6 separate regions of the Homo sapiens genome follow, and all the other regions are reported to be linked to region 2. The links are microRNA targets in miRTarBase. Many come from high-throughput screens and were not tested one by one. Region 2 holds a microRNA gene; each other region holds the end of a gene's coding sequence.
Evidence for each region. The annotated mature microRNA hsa-miR-1343-3p reads CUCCUGGGGCCCGCACUCUCGC and lies in region 2 at 1,553-1,574, shown strand. An mRNA with a match to its seed (bases 2 to 7 or 8) in the 3' UTR can be bound and repressed. Matches are read on the target gene's strand: a 7mer-m8 pairs with bases 2 to 8, a 7mer-A1 pairs with bases 2 to 7 and ends in A, and an 8mer does both.

Region 1: the mRNA of SCRG1 is a reported target of hsa-miR-1343-3p. Seed matches in the 3' UTR shown: 7mer-m8 at 1,342-1,348.
Region 3: miRTarBase lists ANGPTL3 as a target of hsa-miR-1343-3p. The part of its 3' UTR that is shown has no 7-base or 8-base seed match.
Region 4: miRTarBase lists SSBP2 as a target of hsa-miR-1343-3p. Seed matches in the 3' UTR shown: 7mer-m8 at 158-164.
Region 5: the mRNA of ASB8 is a reported target of hsa-miR-1343-3p. Seed matches in the 3' UTR shown: 7mer-m8 at 767-773.
Region 6: miRTarBase lists ABHD2 as a target of hsa-miR-1343-3p. Seed matches in the 3' UTR shown: 7mer-m8 at 2,783-2,789.

The regions. Positions count from the first base shown.
Region 1 is chr4:173,384,883-173,389,019 of GRCh38, forward strand. SCRG1 (stimulator of chondrogenesis 1) reads right to left here. Exons shown (of 3, transcript NM_007281.4): 3 at 1-3,513. The coding sequence ends at 3,459. Among named protein-coding and RNA genes, the nearest start is that of SCRG1, 12 kb to the right of the region's middle.
Region 2 is chr11:34,940,336-34,944,472 of GRCh38, forward strand. MIR1343 (microRNA 1343) reads left to right here and starts at 1,502; the gene lies at 1,502-1,585. All of the region lies in intron 2 of PDHX (pyruvate dehydrogenase complex component X), which reads left to right.
Region 3 is chr1:62,604,095-62,608,094 of GRCh38, reverse strand. It overlaps ANGPTL3 (angiopoietin like 3), which reads right to left. Exons shown (of 7, transcript NM_014495.4): 6 at 3,860-4,000; 7 at 1,782-3,462. The coding sequence ends at 3,278. The region is part of intron 14 of DOCK7 (dedicator of cytokinesis 7); the gene reads left to right. Among named protein-coding and RNA genes, the nearest start is that of ANGPTL3, 8.6 kb to the right of the region's middle.
Region 4 is chr5:81,416,794-81,420,910 of GRCh38, forward strand. It overlaps SSBP2 (single stranded DNA binding protein 2), which reads right to left. Exons shown (of 17, transcript NM_001256732.3): 17 at 1-3,740. The coding sequence ends at 3,711. Among named protein-coding and RNA genes, the nearest start is that of ACOT12, 25 kb to the left of the region's middle.
Region 5 is chr12:48,145,701-48,149,700 of GRCh38, reverse strand. It overlaps ASB8 (ankyrin repeat and SOCS box containing 8), which reads left to right. Exons shown (of 4, transcript NM_024095.5): 4 at 1-1,912. The coding sequence ends at 335. PFKM (phosphofructokinase, muscle) reads right to left here. Exons shown (of 23, transcript NM_000289.6): 23 at 3,297-4,000. The coding sequence ends at 3,993. Among named protein-coding and RNA genes, the nearest start is that of ASB8, 9.8 kb to the left of the region's middle.
Region 6 is chr15:89,195,016-89,199,152 of GRCh38, forward strand. It overlaps ABHD2 (abhydrolase domain containing 2, acylglycerol lipase), which reads left to right. Exons shown (of 11, transcript NM_152924.5): 11 at 212-4,137. The coding sequence ends at 408. It also overlaps the pseudogene LOC124903574. Among named protein-coding and RNA genes, the nearest start is that of RLBP1, 24 kb to the right of the region's middle. RefSeq lists enhancers at 1-356, 357-857 and a silencer at 2,623-2,917.

The sequences.
Region 1 (4,137 bases), not on the chromosome of region 2:
CAATTGTGTGTCCTATCCATGTAAAAGTTTGCCTTTCTGTAAAGGAAATAATGCATTAGGTAATGCTGTTAAACAACATAGTGGTTAAGACTCTAGATGCTAGTGTAAGACTGGCCATATTCAAAATCTGGCTCAATTGCTCACTGATAATGTAAACTTAGACAAACTACTTAATATCTTTAAACCTTAGCTTTTTTGTCCATAGAACAAGGATAATATCAGTACCTATCTCATTCAGTTGCTGCAAGATGGTGTTTAGAAGAATAATAAAATTTTAATAAAAGCTTAGTTGTCTTATAACTAAAATCTATTGGAAAAACTCATGCCTGTAATCCTAACACTTTGGGAGGCCAAGGCAGGCAGATCATTTGAGGCCAGGAGTTGGAGACCAGCCTGTCCAACATGGCAAAACCTCATTTCTACTAAAAAATACAAAAATTAGCTGAGCATGGTGACAAGTGCCTGTAGTCCCAGCTACTCAGGAGGTTGAAGCACAAGTATCACTTGAACCTGGGAGGCAGAGGTTGCAGTGAGTCAAGATTGTGCCACTGTACTCTGGCCTGGGTGACAGAGTGAGACTCAGTTTCAAAAAAAAAAAAAAATCTATTGTTTTTAAAAATGCATTGACCAAGTTAGAGAAATAGTTATATAAGGTAAGTTGTGTGAATGTATGTTTTTACATTTATTTTGTAATATAAAGAAGGCTGTGTACTTGTATAATGCATTCATTTCTAAAAGAAATAACTGAATTTCATATTTTCAGAAAGACATTATGATGAATAATTTATAAAATTTTATTTATTAAATATTTAGCTTTGTTAGATACAATTTTTCTTACCAGGCTTTGATTGCAGTAGTAAGGGAACGTTTACTAAAAAGCCGTTGTTGTCTCACATATGTCCTTATGCTGATGTGTCATTTGTAAATGGAGACACTGGATCTTTAATGCTTTTTCCCCCTCAAGGAGAGTTCCTACCAAGTAGAAAATAAAACTGGTTTGCTGATAGTTTTTTTAAATTTACCTATTCTATGCATTGTTCCAGAATGGATATGAAACTTTCATTATTGAGTTAGGCTGATTTCATTACCAGTCAATTCAGTGAAGAAAGAAAGGCCAATCAAATCACATGCTATCTTGATAAAACAACTAATATTATCCATCTACCTACCTATCTATATTATTTTACAATTTCACTTCATGTATTTTATAGGAGCTTACACTGTTCGAAAACATGTTCTGACTTGTGTTTATATACACTTTTTTTTTGGGGGGACGGAGTCTCACTCTGTCGCCCAGGCTGGAGTGCAGTGGCACGATCTCAGCTCACTGCAAGCTCCACCTCCTGGGTTCACGCCATTCTCCTGCCTCAGCCTCCCAAATAGCTGGGACTAGAGGCGCCTGCCACCACGCCCAGCTAATTTTTTTTTTTTTTTTTTTTGTATTTTTAGTAGAGACGAGGTTTCACCGTATTAGCCAGGATGGTCTTGATCTCCTGACCTCGTGATAAGCCCGCCTCCGCCTCCCAAAGTGCTGGGATTACAGGCGTGAGCCACCGCACCCAGCCGTGTTTATATACACTTTAAGACACTGAATTGTGACTACCTCAAAATTGTTTGGTCCAGCCCAGTAACACTTATTTACACAGATTAGATACCAGACACTGTTTTGGGTGTGGTCTTTCAGCCCAGTAACACTTACTAAACACAGATTAGATACCAGATACTGTTCTGGGTGTGGTCTCCAGAAACAGATCAGGGACCTCCAAGGATATATTTTAATGAAATAATGTCACTTTTATTCATAAAATGATATCTCCCAGATTGCCTGTGTGGTATGGTGTCTCTCAAACATTTCCCCACAATACTTTGTATGGCACCCTATACTTCTCTGTAGCAGGCTTCACATTTATAAATAATTACTTGTTTATAGCAATCACACCTTTGTTAGAGCACAAGTTCCAAGAAGATAAGTCCATTTTATTCATTACTGTATGCCCAGATCTTAATAATGGCTGGCACTTAGCAGGCTTTGAATACATTTTTATAACATGAAAGACTTTCTGACATTACCTCTGATGGCAATATGAGTCACATACCTCTTAAGTTATGGGGCATAATCCAAAGCTGTCTCCTCTAACAATCAGAAAATACCTTTGAAGTTCCCTGTTTTATTTACTTTTAAAATGTATGATACTTTTAAATTCTCATCCATTATGTTTCTTTTAATGTGTGTTTTGTTATTCTTAAAAATGGATACTTTAGGAAATGTATCATGGTTTTAAGGATACATCTGTGTGTGGCATATGGGCTTTGGAATTGGAACTCTTGAAAATCTGCCTTGATTTTTAGCAAATATCTTAAACTTGAGTTAGCAGCTGAAAAATGGGGCTGAGAATATTTACCTTGAAGGCTTTTGTTGTTGTTTTTTAAGAGAGTAAAATGAAATGTGCTTAAAGTTCTTGGTTTTTGTTTGTTTGTTTGAGACAGAGTCTCACTCTGTGGTTCCATGGTGGAGTTCAGTGGCATCATCTTAGCTCACTGCAGCCTTGAATTTCTGGGCTCGAGTGATCCTCCTACCTCAGCCTCCCAAATAGCTGGGACTACAGGTGCATGCCGCCATGCAGCTAATTTTTAAATTTTTTTTGTAAAGACAGGATCTCACTATGTTGCCCAGGCTGGTCTCAAACTCCTGGACTCAAGTGATCTTCCCGCCTTGGCCTCCCAAAATGCTAGGATTACAGGCATTAGTCACCAGTCCCAGCCTGAAATGTACTTAAAGTTATTAGCATACATAATATACCCTCAAATATTGTTCCCTTTTCCTTTTTTTTTTTTTTTTTTTTTTTTCGAGACAGGGTCTTGCTCTGTCACCCAGGCTAGAGTGCAGTAGTGCAATCATAGCTCACTGCAGACTCGAAATTCTAGATTCAAATGACCCTCTTGAGTAACTAGAACTACAGATGTGGGCACCCACAACCTGCTAATTTTTTAATTTTTTTGTAAAGAGGGGGTCTCACTATGTTGCCCAGGCTGGTCCCTTTTTCCTTCTTACTAGAAAATTTCTAGCTCCCTTCCAAGAATCTCAGCTTATACCTGGTTCTTTCAATATGTGGTTAATAACTGTCAACTAAGGACTGAAAGTATTTTCAATCCTTGAGCCATGCCTATGGCTCTTCATCTGGGGGACAGAACTCTTTAACTGAGTATAATGAACACCTCATAGATTACATTTTCTAGGCAAAATTTTTAACCAATGCCAACAATGTCCACAGAGAAAAATTAGATTGAATTAACTTTTATTACTACTTGTTTAACACAGATTTACTTGTCTTAGACAAGTAAGAATTTATAGAATCTATGCTCTATTGCACTATATAGAAACTAGAAATGCAGTTATACTGATGTAGTGCAGTTTGTGGGAAATCAGGAATGGTGTTCTCCAGAATACATGAAGATTCTCATTGATTGTTGCAAGGAATCACGAAAGAGATCTTTGGTCCAAAGAAAACGTCTCTGAAAGAAAATAGAGCATCAATTAAATTCACCTTAAGGCTAAGATATTAGTTAGTCTATTCTAGGTTAAAAATAGACAGTGATTTCCAGGATTTCAGTTATGATTATTCTTTTTAGGTGACTAAAATGTAAAGAGATGAGTGGGAGGACTTGCCACAGAAGCAACAAAGACCGAGAAGGTAATCGATTTGTCTACTTTCCCCGCATTTGCCATTGATATCATGCTGTCATTTACGAAGAAAAAGAAATATTAGGTAATTTCAAAACTTTATGGTCATGTATACAATTTCATGTCTCTTATATGAGGATAGGCCATGAAGTTTAAATCTGCAGTTAGGAAACAGAAGATTCAACATTTCTTGTTTATTAAATAAATTTCTAGGTTTTATGGGGAAAGGAGAAATGTTACAAAGCTACTTAACTTTCCCTGGTTGAAAAGATCACATAAAGTAATATATAAAAATGCATGGAATAATACAAAATTATATACAAATGCAAGGTGATATTATAATTATGGCTTATTAGAAATATACTTAGCAGTATTTCTCTTTGATTTTCCCAAAATCAAGTATACCCACACTGCTGTTCTCATCCCTTAACAGACATAATCACAAAATTATATCA
Region 2 (4,137 bases):
GTATAAAATTCAGAAATAAAACCATTTTGAAGAAAGCCTTATCCTATATCACTAGATGCCACTAGAGAGTTATATGGGTCTCTGGATTCTACTATAGAAGACACTTTGGTTCCGTTATTTCTGGCAATATGTATATGTTTGTGGTGCTAAAATGGAAAATTTTGAAAAGTCCATTTCACAAATAGCTTCCTTTTTTTGGTGTACTATGGTTTTCACAGCTTTATTGAGGTATAATTTACATACCATAACATTTACCTATTTTAAGTATTCAATGATTTTTAATAAATATATGGAGTTGTGCAGCCATCACCACAATCCAGTTTTAGAACACATTTCTGTCACCCCAAAAAAGATCCCTGCTGCCTGATTGCAGTCATTTTTTTCCTCCCATCTCTATCCCTAGACAATCCGGATCTGTTTTTTGTCTCTAAAGTTTTGCCTTTTGTCTATGTTTCATATAAATAGAAGCATGTAATGTTTGGTCTTTTGTGACTAGATTTTTTCAGATTTAGCATGATTAAGGTTCATCCATGTTGTAGCATTTATCAGCTGTTCATTCCTTTTGTTACTAAATTATATTCCATCATTATGCGTTTTTACATTTATTGCTAAATCTTTGTATTATATCAGAATTTTTAAATTAGTGAATGGAATTATAGATTATAGTTTTATTCAATAGAAGTTTCTGTGGTGATGGAAATGTTCTGTGTTAAACTGTCGAATACAGTAGCTACTAGACTTTAAGAAGCCAGAGGGATGTGTGGGTGGTTGACCTTGTCTAACTGGGCCCTTCTCAAACTCTCCTACTCATGCCTTCACCCCATAGGGCAGGACCTCAACTGGCCTAGCAACCAGGTTGCCTCAGGTCTTTGGCCATGCAAATATTATCCTTCTTTGTGTGTGTGTGAAGTGAAAAGGGATGACAAACACTGACTAGGGGTCCCTCCTCTACATTCCCATTCTGCTGTAGGTACTAATTGGATGGGATTGTCATTGCCTGCTTGTTGTACTGTTCTTCAATCAGATTAGGAACTTCTTGAAGCAGTTCTGTCTTATTTTATTACTATTTTTATCATAGTGTCGCACACAGTGTCATTCACATGGGCAGCTAGTAAATACTTGTAGAGTCAACAATTGAATTATTTTTGTTTCTGATTATTGTTATCATTATGGTTCAACATAGCACTAAGAAGAGGAATTTTTCTTTAATGTTCATGTTAATCTGATAACTTGGTCTTACAGATAAAAACTAGCTCTCTTCCACCACCACCACCACACACATCTTTTACGTAAAGACTTTTATTCTTAATTTTTGGCAGAACAAAATTATTTTGTGAAAGCCTCAGGACTTATTCTATTAATAAAATAAACATCACCATTAACTGTGTTTGACCAAGGCTATGCTTAATATCTAGAATTTAAAAAGAGAAAGGGAAGCCTCCGTATACTTCAGTCCTCAGCTCTGGCAGCTGCCCATCGGACAAAGGAACAGGACGATGATGCTGGCGTCGGTGCTGGGGAGCGGCCCCCGGGTGGGCCTCTGCTCTGGCCCCTCCTGGGGCCCGCACTCTCGCTCTGGGCCCGCTCCTCTTCCGCCACTGCCATGGACCACGAGAAGATGGTGCAGGAACACTCCAGGGCTGCCATCTCTTTCTTCAATCAGTCAGCTATGAACCTGACAGCTGAGAAGCCATCTGTCATCTCACGCTGTCCAGGACCCTCTATCCTAGCTGCTGAGTCTTTTCCACTCTTCTCCACTTTAAACTCTTTGTGGACAGAACCTTCTCTTTTTGTTGTTTTCATACCCAGTGCTTAGTACAGTGCCTTATACATTAATGTTTGTTGGATGATCTGGTAGAAATGACAGAATATGGAATAAATGTGTCCTGATTCTGGTAGAAATGACAGAATATGGAAAAAAACCGTATCTTGATTCAGGTAGACATGACAGAATATGGAATAAATGTGTCTTGATTCAAAATGGTTGTATAGCTAACATTTTATTTTTACCTAGAGATGTTGTAAAGTGTTACATAAAGATGTATGTGAAGCATTAACACTTCCAGCCCCATGACTTAAAAAATATATATCTATACATTTAAAATTTTCCTGAGAGTCAGAGAGATTAAGTAACTTGGTCAAGATCACTAGTAACTGTCAGAGCTTGGAATCAAACTCATATTTGAATTAGGAGAGGTTCCTTGTAACTACTCTGCCAAGGAGTCTTTCTAAGTTATAGCACTAAATTTTTGATCACAGCTGAAACTCAGTAGATTTGAAATATTCATGGCTCATTATTTGCTCTCAGAGTTTTCTTTTGGCATTTACATGATGTTTGATTATTGAAAGATAGAACTTTGGTTTTGTGATGAGTTAGGGGTAATGCTTCCATACGTAATATTACTATGTTTTTAAAACTTCCCTGTGATTTATTGGTAAAGTGTTCTGTGTTTCTTTTCCCTACCTCCCTCTCTTTTGTCCTCTCCTTTTTTCCTTCTCTCTCCTCCTGCTTTTCTCTTCTACCCTCTCCCTTGGCATTCTCATCTAGCTAACATATATGTCTGTGTTATGTGAATAGATATAGTTTTTTAAAAAAGAAAAAAAGGCTATCTTTTTAAATATCAGAAGCATGCTACAAATCAAATGTTAGAAGCAAAAGAAATGTAAAAGATAATTTGATGTATACCTTATGAGGAAATAAGGATTCGTGAAGTTATCATGTTTTTTTCTAAAGCATTTTAATCTAAAATTCATTGGGTATGGTGCATTGGCCATGAAACCTGAGGAATGGGGATGGGAATATAAAACATTTAAGTGTCCTGTCCGTATTGTGAAGAAGCTCATAGTCTAGTAAATAGAGGAAATCACAATTTAAAAAAGTAATTAGCAGTAATATAACATTTTATATGCAATTTGTGATTTTTAAATAAATTAGACCTACTATAGGAATCTGGAATATGAACAAAATTATGTAGGTCAAGTTACTCAGAGAAAGTTATATAGCTGAAGTCGAATCTGTAGTTCTTAAAGTGTGGTTGGAATTTGAATACTGATGAACACAAATGATGATATAGCATCATTTTGTTTTTCTGTGGCTAGAGTCTGTTTTCTAGGCATCTAAGAGGTATTTAATTGCTGGGTTTACTAGTTCTATAGTTTTTCCCGTGATTATAGCAGAAATCTTTGAGGGTGTGCTTTTTTTCCCTTTTGAAGTGCAATCTGTTTTAACCACTAAAACATTTAAAGAAGTATGTAAGATGATATAATCTGACACTGTAGCTTTCTCTATGACATACAAAGGTCATTTTTGGTCTCTTCCTGCATATCTTACCAGCCTAATCTCTCGTCACTTCTCTCGCATACTATTTGCCAGTTTCTCTGAAGTTTCCTGTTCTCTCTGCCTCCAGGGCTATAAGTGTATTACCTTCTACCTGGATCACTGCCTGTTTACAGATTGTCTCCTCCTCACCTCTTCAGGCTCAGAATAGGTGGTCATTGTATTCTAGGAAGCCTTTTCTCACCTTACAAAAACTGAATTAGATGCCCCTCCTGAACATTCCCAAAGCATCCTGACCTCACCTTATCCTGCTGTATTTTCCAGTTTACTTGTCAATGGATATTAAGCAAGCTTCTTGAGGTCAGGAATCTTAAATCTTTGCTGTTATTACTGTCCACTGCTGTATCCTCAGTGCCTACATATGTATATATATTTTATATGTAATATATAAATATATAATACAAATATGTGTGTGTGTGTGTATATATATATAAAATATATTTATATAATTATTATTATTTTTTAGACAGAGTTTTTGCTCTTGTTGCCCAGGCTGGAGTGAAATGGCATGATCTTGACTCACTGCAACCCCCTTCTCCCAGGTTCAAGTGATTCTTCTGCCTCAACCTCCCGAGTAGCTGGGACCACAGGTGCCTGCCACCTCTCCTGGCTAATTTTTGTATTTTTAGTAGGGACGGGGTTTCACAATGTTGGCCAGGCTGGTCTTGAACCCCTGGCCTCAGGTGATCCACCCACCTCGGCCTCCCAAAGTGATGGGATTACAGGTGTGAGCCTACACGCCTGGCCACCCCAATACATTTTTAATAAATGTTTGTTGACTAGGGACATCTCTTTGGAGT
Region 3 (4,000 bases), not on the chromosome of region 2:
GAAGATTTTTTTTGAGACAGAGTCTCACTCTGTTGCCCAGGCTAGAATGCAGTGTTAGGATCATGGTTCGCTGCAGGCTTGACTTCCCAGGCTCCAGCGATTCTCCTGCCTCAGCCTCCCAAGTAGTTGGGATTACAGGCACCTGCCACCACACCCAGCTAATTTTTGTATTTTTTGTAGAGGTGGAGTTTTGCCGTGTTGCACAGGCTGATCTTGGACTCCTGGGTTCAAGCAGTACTCCCGCCCCGGCCTCCCAAAATACTTGGATTACAGGTGTGAGCCACTGCAGGCATGAAGATAGATTTATAAAGTATAAAACACAATTCATATGCAATTTTAAAGTAAAATTCTAAGATTTAAGCTAAGATCCCAATAAGATTCTGAAAGAAATTTGTGCATATAGTAAGTTATTTTATCCTGTAACTCCAGACAATAAAAGGATTTGTTTTCATTATCCTCTGCTGTTACACTTCTTCAGTAGATGAGCTTGAAAGACACAGGTCCAGGCAGTATGCAGCCATTACAAATTCCTTTTCGGAAGATTGACAGGGAGAGGGACGTAAAATTAGGAGGAAAGAAGAGACTACTTATATAATCTAGCACTGAAGTTAAAGACAGTCTTTGGGGAAGAAAGCTTATAAGATTAAGAGACGTTTCAAGAGAAGATTGTATTGAACTTGGTGGCTTATGATACAAAAGAGGTAGTTTACAAAGTTGAGTGAAAAGCCAGAGATGTCTTCCGGGTTCCAGGCTTCTGTGACTGGGAACATGCTGGTCATATTAATGGATATAAAGAAGTGAGGAAGATGGTGTGAAAGAGTATAAAGGAGGGAAAGGTGGGTAGAAAGGGATAGCAGTAGCAGTAAGGGGCTGGGGAATTTGTTATTTATTTTTTTTTGAGTCAGTCTTGTTCTGTCACCCAGTGCATTGGTGTGATCTCAGCTCACTGCAACCTCCGCCTCCTGGGTTCAAGCGATTCTCCTGTCTCAGCCTCTTGAGTAGCTGGGACTGTAGGCACATGCCACCACGCCTGGCTAATTTTTGTATTTTAGGTAGAGACGGGGTTTCACCATATTGGTCAGGCTGGTCAGACTCCTGACCTCAGGTGATCCACCTGCCTCAGCCTCCCAAAGTCCTGGGATTACAGGTGTGAGCCACCGTGCCTGGCCTTTTATTTTTGGTATGTTGAATTTGAGTGAAGTATAGGGTATTGAAGGGAGAAATGGCAAATAGGCAATGTAAGAAGGGGAACTGGAAAGAGACTTGGGATGAATATGTAGATTTTGGAACTTTATTCATGGTAAATAAAGGAGTCCGTGAGAGCAGATAGAATGTCTGAGGGTCAGTGTAGAAAAGATGATTGAAGGTTGTCCATTGGCCCACAGTACTAAATATGAGAAAGGAATAGGGTTATAAAGATGGATTCAGATAAGGGATAATCCATGGAGAGTATAGTATTGTGAAAGCAAAATGAAGGTCAAGTTTGAAAAAAAGATATTCTTATTATTAAGTAGTAGAGAGATAAAAGGGAAGGTAGTCTGAGAGATCAAAGGGGATTAGACTTAGATTAGACAACTGTGAGTAGTGATGGAATTTGAGCACTTTAAGCAAAGTAGTTAGGACAGGAGACAGTCGTGTGAACCATAAAGAGCTCCTTTCTCTTCTTCTACCAGAAGTATCTTTCTGGTAGAAAAAAGCTTTATATGGGGAAAACGTCTAATTTACTACTCCTGAAAGGAACAAAATGAAACATGTCCTATGAGAGTTTTTTTTTTTTTTAAGGAAACCAAATAGAGGAAGCAACTCATATATTAAATAATGAATTATTTTGCATTTGAAATTGTCCAATTTTGGGGGAAGAGAGGAGCCATTTTGGTATTCTGGCCCTAAAAAAATCAGCGTTAATTTCGACAGCTTAGTCTGTGGTCCTGAAAATTATAGATTATTTTTACCTTTATTATTTTGTACTTTTCTGGAACAAAATATTTACTTAGGATTCACATAGATCATACATATCTTTTATATATGTGACATATAAAAATATATATGACATGTATATTGGATAATTTGAAATACATAATGCTAAGTATTGACAAAGGTAGGTCACCATATAACTTGGGCACTATATCCTTTAACAAATGGGTTTAATTTAAAATTTCTTACTGGCAGTTTTAAAAAATCATATTTAAAAATAAATTCTGACAAGTGATACTGTGGTAAAAAATTTGTATCTAATCTTTAGGGATTTAGGGATTTAGGGATCTGTTGTGATGTCGATAAACATGCAAGAATAATTTAAATTTCTATAATTTAGGGACTGGGTCTTTGTTTATTGAATTTTAAACATATATACATGCTTGTCAGGCTGTTTAAACGTTCAGTAACTTGTTACGAGGTTTATTTCTACTTGAAAACCTACACGAATGTATTAGAATCACAGCATATTTAGGGGAAATATAAACTTTAACTCGATGCCACAAATATGTTCATTCTTACTGTAATCTGACAAGATTCCTTTACAATTATTTGTTTTCATAGTATTAAGTGTTAAAATATATAAAATGTATACAGTATATATTTTAACAAATAAGGTATAGTGATACCTCATGTTAAAGTCAATGTGACTTAGTAGTCATCTCCATTTGTTTAAAGACAGCGAACTTATTTTAATACAGTATTTAATTCTGCTTCATTAGGTTTCATAAATAAATCATATCAAACATTTACTCCAAATTATTTTGTAGCAAAATGAAGCATCAGTTTAAAAATTTGTATTACAGATTTTTACACATACTCTGTGCTGACGATTTTTAGTTTTGAAATTAATACTACAACATTTAAGAACTGTACAATTACCAGTCCTCTGTATTTAGTCAAGTTTAGAGTTTTAACAAGAGTACTAGTTTTTTAAACTGGGAAAGTTGTGATATTAGCTCATATGATGCCTTTTAAAATAAAAGTCTCTAAATTTTTTATTTAGAAAAGTTATTTAATAAGTTCACCTATTGATTATAATCTAGATTGTGACCATCTAAAATTGATTCCCACATCACAAAATTTAAAACAAATAGTATTATAAGAATTTTGATTGAGAAATGTAAACGGTATTCTTTAAGGTTATGTGATTGTATGTTTAATCTTAAATAGACAGTGACTTTAAGATAAAAAAAATCTATTTCTCAAGCTTTCTCTTAAGGATTTAATACCAGATTATTAGACCACATTAACTTGGAATGAGGTTAATGTTTAAATTATTGCCTTTTAAATTTGCCTCAGTTCATTCAAAGCTTTCTGAATCTGTTGGATGGATCAACATTTTGGTTGATTTTATAGAGTATAACCTTCCATTTTGAGACTTCCAAGATAATCCTCTTCTCCTCTCTGGCTTAGATTTTGCTCTTGGTTTGTTATATTTACCATTTAGGTTGTTTTCTCCACACTCATCATGCCACCACCAGCCTCCTAAAGGAGATAGATATGCAATTTAATGGGTACAGACTCGTATGTAGTTACTGTTACTGTATTTCCCCGTAAGTTTATCTTCCTTTCTTATAAATATTACAGTGTTTTAGATGCATGTATCCCAGTTTTAAATAATCTGTATAAGTCCCAATTTTAAATAATCTGTATAAATAATCTATACACTACCAAAAAATAGAAAATCTGAGGAAGATTAGAGGTAAAATACCTGATTGAACTAGAATGAACACTTTCATTATAGTTAAGAGGTTTTCGTCTAGAGAGAAAACGCTTATTTGGGATTCGGATTTTTAAAAGTTGTCATTGCAGATAATAGCTAATAATGTGGGAAGATACTTTGAAGATATGAAAATAAAGTATTGGTATCAGAAAAAGATACCTGAATAACCCTCTGGACAGTTGAAGTGTCCTTTTGCTTTGTGATCCCAAGTAGAAAACACCAAATCTTTGTTTTCCGGGATTGCATTGGGGACATTGCCAGTAATCGCAACTAGATGTAGCGTATAGTTGGTTTCGTGAT
Region 4 (4,117 bases), not on the chromosome of region 2:
CTGTTTTGGGCACTTTTCATGGCTGGGGGAGCAGAATTGATTTACTTGTTAATCTTTTTGGCAATTGAGAAATCTTTTCTATTTTTGAGATGGAGTCTTGCTCTGTCACCCAGGCTGGAGTGCAGTGGCACAATCTCGGCTCACTGCAACCTCCGCCTCCTGGGTTCAAGTGATTCTCCCGCCTCAGCCTCTTGAGTAGCTGGGATTACAGGCAGCCACCACCATACCTGGCTAATTTTTGTATTTTTAGTAGAGATGGGGGGGTTTCACCAGGTTGGCCAGGCTGGTCTTGAACTCCCGACCTCAGGTGATCTGCCCACCTTGGCCTCCCAAGTGCTGGGATTACAGGCATGAGTGCCCAGGCGGCAATTGAGAAATCTTAACTTCGGATTCCTAGCTGTGAACTTCCTCTTTATCAGCAACTGACTCCATACTGGAACATTTTCAAAGGAGTGCTAATAAGATTCACCCATCAAATATGTGTTGTATTACAAGATCAATGACACCCTACAGCCTTTGTTCCCATGGGCAACTTTGCTGTAAGACACGTAGTTAAGAATCATACATACCCTCAGAAAGAATTTGACATGTATTTTCAAATGCAGTGAGTTAGGCAGAATGCAAAGCAGAGTAACAAGATTTTACCTACTGCTTACTTTTTCATTTTACATGTGTATTTAATATGTTCAATGCAGCAAGAATTGCTGATATTATTACTGTGAGATGACGTGTAAAAATAACACTAGGAACAGGTAGTATACATCAAGACCAACACGAATGCATTGATAAAGATGGAAAACACAAGAGAAAAACATTAAATAGTCTTATTACAAGAAAAAAGGATAAGGGTTAAATGATTCAAAATCTAAACAAAAATTAATATACAGATATACTGTCTTCCATTCAGTGCATGAAAGAATTATCTGGATATAAAAATCAAGTATCCTTACATTCTGGGTTTCTTGGATACAATTTTCTCCTCAAAAATAATTTTTCAACTATTTCAGGAAATTTTTAAATCTAAAATAACTCTTTTTAATCTGGGCTCCAAGAAGAAAAAAGAAATAAATACTTATAATCAATTGACTGCTCTGCCTTGAAAAAAAAAACGAATTTTACTTTTAGGTTAGAAATAATGGGGATCATGATGCAATTCATATTCTCGTATTACCCCCAAAATAAGGGTAGATAAAATCATATTCATCATTCTTTGTGATAAGAAATAATACCTTCTCAGAAGGCGAAGAAAAGAATTTCAAGATCGGTAACAATGGAGAAGAGTCAACAAAATATTTGAAAATTCTAGCATTATAAGATTAAGCTTAATAATCAAAGGACTGTCAATTTTTATATGATTGTCATAAAATATGAAAGTCAAAATTCTTCTTGGTAAAGTCAGGTGTCTGGACAAACTATCACCTTCATTCAGGTTACCCTGGCTTGAGGTAAAGACCTTTTCATCTGAATTTGCATGAAAGGTTTCTGCAGCTTGACAGCATGAGGCTGTTCTCCGGTGTGCACTCCTAGGCACCTGAATACTGTGTGTGATTAACTGAGGCTCATTTTATGATAGTTTAAATCTGCAACATAAATTTAATTCAGCTTTTTTTTCTCAACAGTTCTGCCTAGTATCCCTGTTTAGGCACAGGCAAAATCTTTATTTTTACAAGGACTAAATCATTATGAATTTGAGAGAAGTAAGTCATCAGGAACTAGTACATACAGTCATATGTTACTTAATGATAAGTATACATTCTGAGAAATGCATTGTCAGGCAATATTGTCCTTGTCTGAACATCATAGAGTGTACTTACACAAACCTAGATGGTATAGGCTCCTACACACCTAGGCTATATAATATAAACTATTGCTCCTAGGCTACAAACCTGTACAGCATGTTACTGTACTGAATACCAAAGGCAACTGTAATACAATGGTATTTGTGTATCTAAGCATAGAAAAGATATGCTAAAAATATGGTATTATAATCTTATAGGACCACTGCTGTATATGCAGTCTGTGGTTGATTGGAATGTCATTATGAGCTGCATGACTATATCCTGCCAAATTTTCACTTTAGAGACTATAAGCCTAAAGGAAAGAGAAGATTCCTCTTACCTGCAATTAAACAATGCTTTTCAAAGTCTCTAGAGTTTGGATTCATAGTTGGTATTTATCAATGGTTGTTTGTATCACAATTTTAACACAAAGGATCACCCAGTTATCTTTCAGAGTCTAAAATTAAAGTCTTCATATCTTTCTATTGTGATTTTGGTGTATGTATGTATAATTAAGCACAAAATCCCAAAAGATCTGGAAAGTGCCATAGAGCAAGGTGCTTTCCATAAGGGAATTAGATTAAAAAAAATTTACTTATTCTTTTTTGAACAGTCAGTTACACAATGTAGTTTTAGCCTGCTGAAGTCAATGGCTAGATAAAGCAAAGTTACTATCAATGATTTGCTCCTGAATAAAAGCCTTATATTCCAGGAACAGAGCAGAGGCTCCCTGGCCAGTGAGAACCAATACCAGTCAATTCTGCTGGTAGCAAGCAAGATACCTGGATAGAAAAGCAGCATTCCAGAGGCCTCAGGAGTGCTAATAACTCTCTTCTCCCTTGTGCTCAAAGTCTCCTTCTATGTATTTATTTCTAGTGTCTATAAGAATATGCTCACAAAAAGTCTGAATAAAAACCAGATACCATTTCACATTAGTATGTTATTAAAAATTTACCTCTAGTACTCCTGGTGAGAAGTGACAAATTCAAGCAAATGCTTTTGTTATCACTTTTGGGCTTCATCATGTTAAAGAGAAAAGATGTTGCTAAATATATGACAACCCCGGTCACTTTATTGCTATGGTCTAAATGATTTGGGCTATTTAATGATTTCTGTATCATCTAAGACAAACAAATCAAGAACTCCGTTTAAAGCAGTTATTGCAGAAATATACTGTGTGAGGCCCCAGTTAAGCTTTTACTGATTTGAAGTGTTTTTCTCAAATAAAAATTAAAAAAATACTTTTCACTGAAGGTAACTGAGAAATTGTTTGATTCAACATAAAGACGAAGACACATTTTCTTCTATTTTTTGAGACAGTACACTTTGTGATTCACAGGATAACTTGCATCAGACGCAATTTAATGAAAGCTCTCAAATAAGCGATTTTATTCCTATCCATGATTGCAGACATTTACAAAACCATAACATCTGAGTTCACCTTAAAAAATAACTTATATAAAGCAGTGATATACACAGCACAAAATAGTTCAGGGAGGGGGCAGGAGCAACTTGTAATAATTAAAATGTAAACGTGAAAAAAAGGATGGAATAAAAGTCCCTACTTATTTCTACTTAAGATGTCATGTGATAATATTTTACAATGTCCTGTGGGTCAATGTATGTATGTGTATATGTCTGTATAACATACACATATACAGTACATTCTCTTTCCCACACATATACATACACACATAATTATTTGCAGTTCAGTTTAGGGCAATTCTAATATGCCACTCCGTACAGTTGTTTGAATCACATTTGGACCCGCTTTCTTCACAAAAGAGGGGAGAGAGCAGGAAATAAAAAGGTTGGTTTGGTGTGACTGAGATTCCTTTGTTTAACTGTACACTGTGATGAATAATTTTCTTCCGTAGTAGTTCTGTGAAGGGCTGACTCACTGTGGTTTTCATGAGGAGACTTGGTAATGGATCACACGCTCATTGTCATGCTAGGGGAGTACTAGAAGGAAAGAAGAATCCATATTTTAACAACAATTCTTTTAGAGATCACTAAGGTTCTTCTTGGTACAACAGAAACGATGAATTCTAATTTCTTATCATCTTTTATGTGCAAGCTTTTCATCTCATACAACATAAAATAAGAAACTATAAAAAAAGTAAAATGATACAGACTTAACTTAGTACTGAAATTTTAAATATTTCCCCTGGAAAGCATCAAGTCCTATCCTCTCCCTGCACCCAGAGGCTCATCATTACCCAGTCCCTCTGCCTCCCTCCATCCAGACAGATTTATGTTTTGCAGGCACTTGTAAAAACCTTTGGTAAATTTAGTCCAAGGCTGGATCATAACTAAGTAAGTATGAGGTCTAGTCTTTG
Region 5 (4,000 bases), not on the chromosome of region 2:
GAGTCATCAACCTAATAGGCCAGACACCCATCTCCCGCCTGGTGGCTCTGCTAGTCAGGGGACTTGGAACAGAGAAAGAGGACTCTTGCTTTGAGCTCCTCCACAGAGCTGTTGGACACTTTGAATTGAGGAAAAATGGCACCATGCCACGAGAGGTGGCCAGAGACCCGCAGCTATGTGAAAAACTGACTGTTCTGTGCTCAGCTCCAGGAACTCTAAAAACACTCGCTCGCTATGCCGTGCGCCGTAGCCTGGGACTCCAGTATCTCCCCGATGCAGTGAAGGGCCTTCCACTGCCAGCTTCTTTGAAGGAATACCTGTTACTTTTAGAATAGCCGGAGAAGATGTTTGCACCATCGTGCAGGCAGCTCTGGGTGAGGTTGTCCCTGCAGTACTCCTTGTCACAGAAAACAGAAAAACAGTTGTTCCTGTTGTGTGGTTTATAGATTTCGAAGCAACATGTCACAACAATAACCTCCATAGCACCTCCCCTTCCCAAACCAAACAACCCAACAAAAAAAATCCCTCACTTTTGTTTTCTGTTTATTGCTTACCTGGCTTTTTATATTGCATTTTGCAAAAGAAGAGGTCTCCCTCAATCCTCCCCTTTAGGGAAGGAGTCAACAGTGTAACTAAATTTCTCTAGGAAGATGGAAAGTACTTAAATAATGTGTGTGTGGTTTTCCTTTGGGGACGTGGTTAACGGTCCAGAAGAATCCCTTCTAGAAAGCATTTTAGGCCAGCCATGGTGGCTCACGTCTGTAATCCCAGGACTTTGGGAGGCTGAGGCAGGTGGATCACCTGAGGTCAGGAGTTCGAGCCCAGCCTGACCAATATGATGAAACCCCGTCTCTACTAAAAATACAAAAATTAGCTGGGCATGGTGGCATGCGCCTGTAATCCCAGCTACTCAGGAGGCTGAGACAGAAGAATCGCTTGAACCTGTGAGGCAGAGGTTGCAGTGAGCCAAGATCGCGCCATTGCACTCCAGCCTGGACAACAAGAGCAAAACTGTCTCAAAAAAAAAAAAAAAAAAAAAAAACCATTTTAATTGATCTGTGAAAAAACTTAAGAAAATCACAATTTCAGCTAACAGCAATTGTGTCCCAAAGATGAAGATACTATAACCTCAAATGGTGCAGATCCAGAACTGGGCTGGATGACATCCCTACTGTGCCATGTCCTGGGGCATTTGGAAGGGACTGGACCTCTTTCCCCTCATCAAAGGAAACAGCAGTCTTTGCCTCTTTCTGTTGGTTGTGCCCAAGGGCTACAGTAGCTCTGAAATAACAAGAGCTCTGTAATAACAGTAATAAATAGCTCTGAAATAACAGTCCTAAGAACTCCTAAAGTCCTGAGAACTTTTCTTGTAATGCAGCTTTTTCTCTTCCTGAGAAACAGTGTGTTCTAATGGGATTCCCAGGCAGTTCCTACACCTACGGTGTGTGTTCCAGCAGGGAGGAGTTATGGGCTGGGCTGCCTTTTCCCATGGGTCTTCATTCCCAATGGAAAGTTCACTCTGCTTAGTTTGGAATTATTTTTCTTTCAGTTGTTCTGGAACCTTTGCTTTTTATTGATTTATACAATACAATTGGTGGGAGGGTGGACTTGGGATGGGAGTGGGAAAAGCATGTAAGAGCTCCTTTTGTGATGGTCCATCTACCCAAAAGAGATCTGCTTTAGTGAACGATACTCTTTCATTTTTCTAAATTAGATCAAGTTGTTATTGATTTTAGATGACTTGTATGCAAATTTGAAAAACTTTTTTTTTTAAAGCTGATTGGGAACTACAAACAATGAATGGAATCTACTGACACAGCTAATTGGAAAACAGATGTCTTCTTCTGTCCTATTGATGCTGGTGTTTAAAAAACATCACTTAAAAAAAAAGAATAAATAGTTCTAAAAGCAAGTTTGGCAATTTCTACTTTTCCTACTTTTCTCCAACCCCCCTTAGAAAAAGTTCTTCGTTTACTGCCTGGCTGTTCTATGTAACTTTCCATCCCAACCTTTCTCCCATTAGCAGCAGTGATTCTGGGCATTGCTGGAGTGAACAGGAGGGCTTGGGCAGAGTATCTGAAGAGCTTCCCCTTCCTTTATACCTTCTCCCACCCCAAATTTGGAATTACTGCTTTTATGTTCTCAACTCCAGCTGCACATAAAATCACTAAGGAAGCTTTTTAAAAACACTGGTGCCAAGATTTCACCTCATACCAATTCTTTGGAATTTTCTGGGGTAGGACTGGGGGCTTCAGTGCTTCAAATATAGCCAGGAATGAGATTCCACTGTGTTAGTCAGTGGTTCTCAATCCTAGTTATTAATTAGAACCACCTAGGAAAATTTTTAAAAATACTAAAGCCCAGGCTCCACCCCCAGAGATTGATTTAATTGGTCCAAAGCAGACCTAGTAGGGCTGGCCACAGTGGCTCACGCCTGTAATCCTCACACTTTAGGAGGCCGAGGTGGGAGGATCATTTGAGACCAGGAGTTGAAGTCCCCATCTCTACAAAAAAATAAATGAATAAAGTAGACCTGGGCATGAGTACGTTCAAAGGTCCCAGGTGATTCTAATATTCTGGTAGATTTATAAACTGCTTGAGATGCTACTTCATTTCTCATCATAGATACTTAATATTCTAGAAAGAGAAAGTTTTGTCCATGTGGGAAAAAATGTTACCTGTTTCTCAGTTACTTCATAATCACTTATGTGGTTGGTGGCTAATAAATTCTGCTTCACCTCCACTTAAGAGTTCAAACACAATTTCACTTATCTTTTTAGCTCTGGGGAAATAGCATGCACCTTCATAGGTTTTTTTTGTTTGTTTTTAAGTGGTCTTCACTATGCCTTTTTTTCCCAGATCGTATCATCATCCTAAATTTTTTACTCTTTACAGAGTGACATTTTCCCTCTGATTAACTTTCCCTGAGCCATCCTTCCCTCTTCATTTTCTTGAGGAAACAGCTCTAAGATTAAAGACAGGAAAGAGACAGAGAACCTATAAATCAATGGCAATTAGCATTTAAAATGTTCTGAATGAATGCCTGAACCTTCCCTTTCACTTTGTTTTCATAGGCCTTATGGCTCTGGGGATTTGATATGGCATGATAAGGAAGCAGGAATGGGGAATGAGGATGAGGTTTGAAGTCAGAACTGAGTTTGAGTTCTACTTGAATAATATTGAAGGAGACATTATGTAATCAATCACCTTGAGCTCCAGTGTCCTCCTTTCTGAAGTCAGGCTGTCACCATTGCCCTCCAAAAGCTACTATGAGGATTCAATGATGAAATGCCTACCACAGTGCTTGATATTTATTGTTAATTTCTCTTCCCACTAAAGAACTGTGCAAAGAGTATTTGGCTGCCTTATTCCCTGACTCCAGCAACAAACCTTCTCAGTCACTATTTAGAACTGTTTTTAGAGTTTGGCAGTGACAATTTTTCAGACAGCCAGCAAGTAGTGTACTAGAGATAATCCCTTCCTCCACCCCCTGTGATACCCTTAACGTCTTTACTGCTTCATCAGACAAGTGTCTGATACATGGGGCTGACAGTATTACATTCCACTTAGGAAGATGATAACAGGAGAAGCAAAAGCACAGTGACCAGTTGGCATTTATTAGTGTAGTTACAATTTGTCACTGTAGTAAAAGTAGTAGAGGAACCAAGACTCTTTGTTATCACAAAGAAATAAATAAAGCTTATTTTTAGGAAAATTCTAACTGAGTAAGTGATATCTAGCAGTAGCACTAGAGGTGCCCAGCCTTGTGTGACAGATAAAGCTGGGGCAGAAGTCATGTTAAATTCTACCTAAAAGGAGCTCCCACCCACTGCCTGCTCCTCCAGCTCCTGGCCAGAACTGGTCATGGCTGCAAGGTACAGAATAAAAGGAAACCTAATGAAAAAAACAGCTAAAACACTGAGAAGATGTGGACTTATTAGGGTGTGAGCTGACCATGATCAGGTAATCTATTCCCCTCACTCCAGAGAGGTTTAGACGG
Region 6 (4,137 bases), not on the chromosome of region 2:
CTCCAAAGCCAAGCTGTACTCTAAAACCTGCTAGATGCCACTGTCTTGCCTGCCCCCTCTTTGGTGAACAAGGCAGAGTGAGTAGAGGTTGGATGCCCACTTAGGTGACCCTGCGGGGACAGCCAGGCTACCCTAGCCAGCTCACCTCTGCACCTCCTGTCCTGGAGCAAACTAGAGAACAGTAACTCACTCAGCTGCGTTTCCCCTGCAGAGAAACGAGAGAACGTCATGTTTGTGCTGCCTCTGCATGGGGGCCACTTGGGCTTCTTTGAGGGCTCTGTGCTGTTCCCCGAGCCCCTGACATGGATGGATAAGCTGGTGGTGGAGTACGCCAACGCCATTTGCCAATGGGAGCGTAACAAGTTGCAGTGCTCTGACACGGAGCAGGTGGAGGCCGACCTGGAGTGAGGCCTCCGGACTCTGGCACGCTCCAGCAGCCCTCCTCTGGAAGCTGCGTCCCCTCACCCCCTGTTTCAGGTCTCCCATCTCCCTCAGTGACCTGGATCTGACCTCACACCATCAGCAGGGGGCACCCACCATGCACACCTGTCTCGGAGTAGGCAGCTCTTCCTGGGAGCTCCAGGCTATTTTTGTGCTTAGTTACTGGTTTTCTCCATTGCATTGTTAGGCATGGTGACAAGTGACAGAGTTCTTGCCCTCTGTCCAGTTTCAGCATCTGGTTGCTTTTAAGCCAAGTACATCTAGTTTCCCTATTAAAAATGTGTCTGAATAGCGATTTTGCTTTGCCACCAAAAGGCTTTTCCCTGAGAACAGTGAAGGATGTATGTCATTTTGTGGTGGTTGTATGTGTCCTTACATAGACCTTAAAAAGAGCTCACCCTTCCAGGCCAATGCTGAAGACACAGCTCCGCTTGGGAGCCTGAGAACCCAGGCTTCCCAGGCCAGAGTGTGGCTTCTTAAACGGCAAAGGAAATTCCTTTGAGTCACAAGCCAAGTTTTCGCCCTGTCTCCTGAGACCATTTCCCTACGCTTTGCTGCTGCTGAGAGTTACGTGAGGCACTTGTTAAAAATTCAGCCTCCCAGGTCCCTCCCCTCGGAGAGGCTGATTCACTGGGTCTGGGAAGGAGCCTGGGGATTTTAATTTTTCACAAGTGCCCCAGATGATTCTCATCACCAAGCAAATTTTGGAAATGCTGTTCAACAGCGCCCTTAAATTGGAAACATCTTTGCAGCTCGTTTTATTGAAATTCATAATCAGGGGTGTCCTCTAGCTCCCACGGTCTCCAGAGCAGCAAGGCCGGCTATGGAGCTGCCGTCGTGTGACCACAGTGTGATGTCTCAGAAGGGCTCTGGGTGGGCTGAGCATCTGGGCTGTGCCCTGGCTCTGCTTTTCACCCTGGACAAAGTCGCTGTGGACTTCAATTTCTTCACCTCTAAAATGGGGGACTTGGACCAGGTAGATTGCTGAGCTCACTACCAGGTTCAAAGTTCAATGACAAACTCAGTTTACTGAGGTTTGAGAGAACATCCCTCCAGGGGAGCCTGGGAGCTGCTCTCCCAGTCTAAGCATGTAGATATCATCGTTTGCCTTTTGTGTGTGTGTGTCCCTTATTTGATAAAAAGATGTTTTGAGTTGTTTTTTTTTTAAGCACTCACTTGTAATTTTAGTTTTTAAACCCAAGTCCCTCTAACTTTGCCTTTGATACCAAACAATTCAAAAGTTGGATCTGAGTTTGGAGAAAGATATTTCCAACCTAAGTGGGTATTATTTTGAAACCAGATTTTTAATTTAATAGCCTATATTTGTAGTCTGTTGGATAGGTGTTTCCAAAGTGTGTCTTCTCAAGTGAAAACGCAACTCTAGGTTTCAAGTACTCCTTTTCTCCGATCCTGTGGTACTTGAATATCCAAAAACCCTGCACTTTGAACAATCAGCTGTTGCTATCTGGAACTAAACAGAACTATGAGTAAAATTGCCTGGATACTTTAAAAAGATATTTTTCCTCCTTCATCTCCTTTGACTCCAGGACAGACTGGAATATAAGTAGTGGGTCTGCATGGATGTTTCAGGGATCAAAGGAGCCACCTGGGCGCCTGAGTGCCAACCCTCAGGGCCACAGGTGGGTGTGGTTTGGGCACGGGTCCAAGTGACTGTGACGGGACCCGTGGGCATGGGTCCAGGTCTGTAACCTGAAGAAGTTGTTTTCTGACAATCACCAAATCATCCGAATGACATCAAAAGCAGCCCTTATCTCAGAGACTGAGATTTCTGTGGTCTCAACTTCGCTTTGGTATAATTTCTGGCACTCACCAGCCTCTATCATTATGACTTTCCCCCCAGTGTATTATTTCTCTAATAGGTTTCCTTTTCACGTTCTTTTAGCACAGACTGGCACTTTACCCTCTCAGTTTGGAAGTTAGCCCCTCTCCTCTGTTACTTTTCCCTTCACCCAACTACAGCTGTGATCTAGAACATTCATAGTCATATTTCTGCTACTACTACCTTCATTTATCAAGACTTTTTATGAGAATAGGTAAACCAAGCAATAACTTCCTAGGACTGAATCACCACCCCAGAAGAGCGAGAGGCTCCTTTCATATGCCTGAGGCCACACCCCTTAACCTGTTCTGACAAAATAGTGGCTGGCCCATGTACCAGCTCCATTCAGAAATTCAGGAAGAGAAAAGACAGCCCTGTTGTCACACAAACCGGTGTGGGGGAGGGTGGAGCCTGGTCTGCACGGCAGTCCTGGTGGCCCCTGTGGAGGACAGGCAGGGCTGGCAGCATAGCCTTTGTTGCCACACAACCGGAATTTGCTCCCCCAGGACTGTGGGAGCCAGTGTCCCAGCTGAAATCTTTTTAGTGTGTGGCTCTGAATGGCACTCACATTCCATTTTGGCTCACATGAAACTAACTGAAGCCCTTTGTTCAAGCTTCAGGCTCTTAGGCATGGAAATGAGAATGTGACTGTGGCTGTCTTACAGGAAAATTCTTGTTTGTCCCTGAATGAGAGCACAGAGGCATTGAATTCACAGAGCTGCAAACTTGCCTGATAAATGAGGGAGTGGCAGTTTATAGATAGGTCATCTTTTTTCCTTCCTCCAGGTGTCCTTGCCTTTCTTCCCAAAGTCATTCATTTCTGATGAGTATATGAATCCCCCTCTTGCTAGTAAGGTTCTATTTGGGCTAAAACAAGGCTGAATTTTTAAAGAGTATTTGAATATATTTTAGAATCAAATTGAGGCTATAAATTGCATCAATCTGGACAATTCCATTGCAGGAATAATATGTTAAAAACCAATGGGGAGAAGCACCCACATCTCTCCTGTAGCACTCCGTGTCTCATAAGCAATTTGAAGACACTTACAAGTAACTGATTCCAGTCAAATTAGGATTAACTGACTCAAAAAATGGTGTCAAGTTTCTTTAATGTTTTTATGTTAGAAGTGAGTTTAACAGACTTGAAGAAAACTGTTATCTTTTCCTGCTGTGAGTTTACACAAATGATTCCAGAGCAGAATGAAAGCAGAAAGCTGTTGGTTACAATATTCTTTTAACCTCTCTGCAGCATTTTACACTTACTGGGAACCTTATGATTCACCGTAAGAGTGGAAATATACCTGAGTTCGTGTCCTAATGGTCTCTAATTCACATTGGATCGTGGGCAAATCACCTCACCTCTCTGAGCCTGTTCCCTCCTCTTAGACCATCTCTAAGACCACTTCATCTATTTACACATCATTTGCTTGAACATTGCTGAACATCTGCGTGAACTTGGCCTCTCCAGCCCTTGCAGGTGGAAACAGCTGTGTCAAGGCTCAAGGCTCACGCTGAGGGGACTTGGAGGGAGGGGGCTTCTGCATTAAGCTTTCCTGGTGAAGACCCTTGATCTTGTCCAAAGCCCTGTGTCTTTGACTGGCTTCTCTTCAGAGTCCCCGTTGTCATCGTAAGACCCTTGCTGTTTGGAGGGTGGTCTTGTGACTGTGGCAGCTGCTGGCCGCTGGAATGAGGAGCCTATCTCCATCCTCCAGTGTGACTCAGGCAGAGCATTGAGAATTCCCAGGGCAGAAATCCTTCCTGCTCAGGCTTTCATTCTAAAACTACAGTCTTCATTAAAGCTGAACTTTCTGGGTAGCTGAGCTTATATGCCCGGCATCTGAATGAGAGCTCTCTTT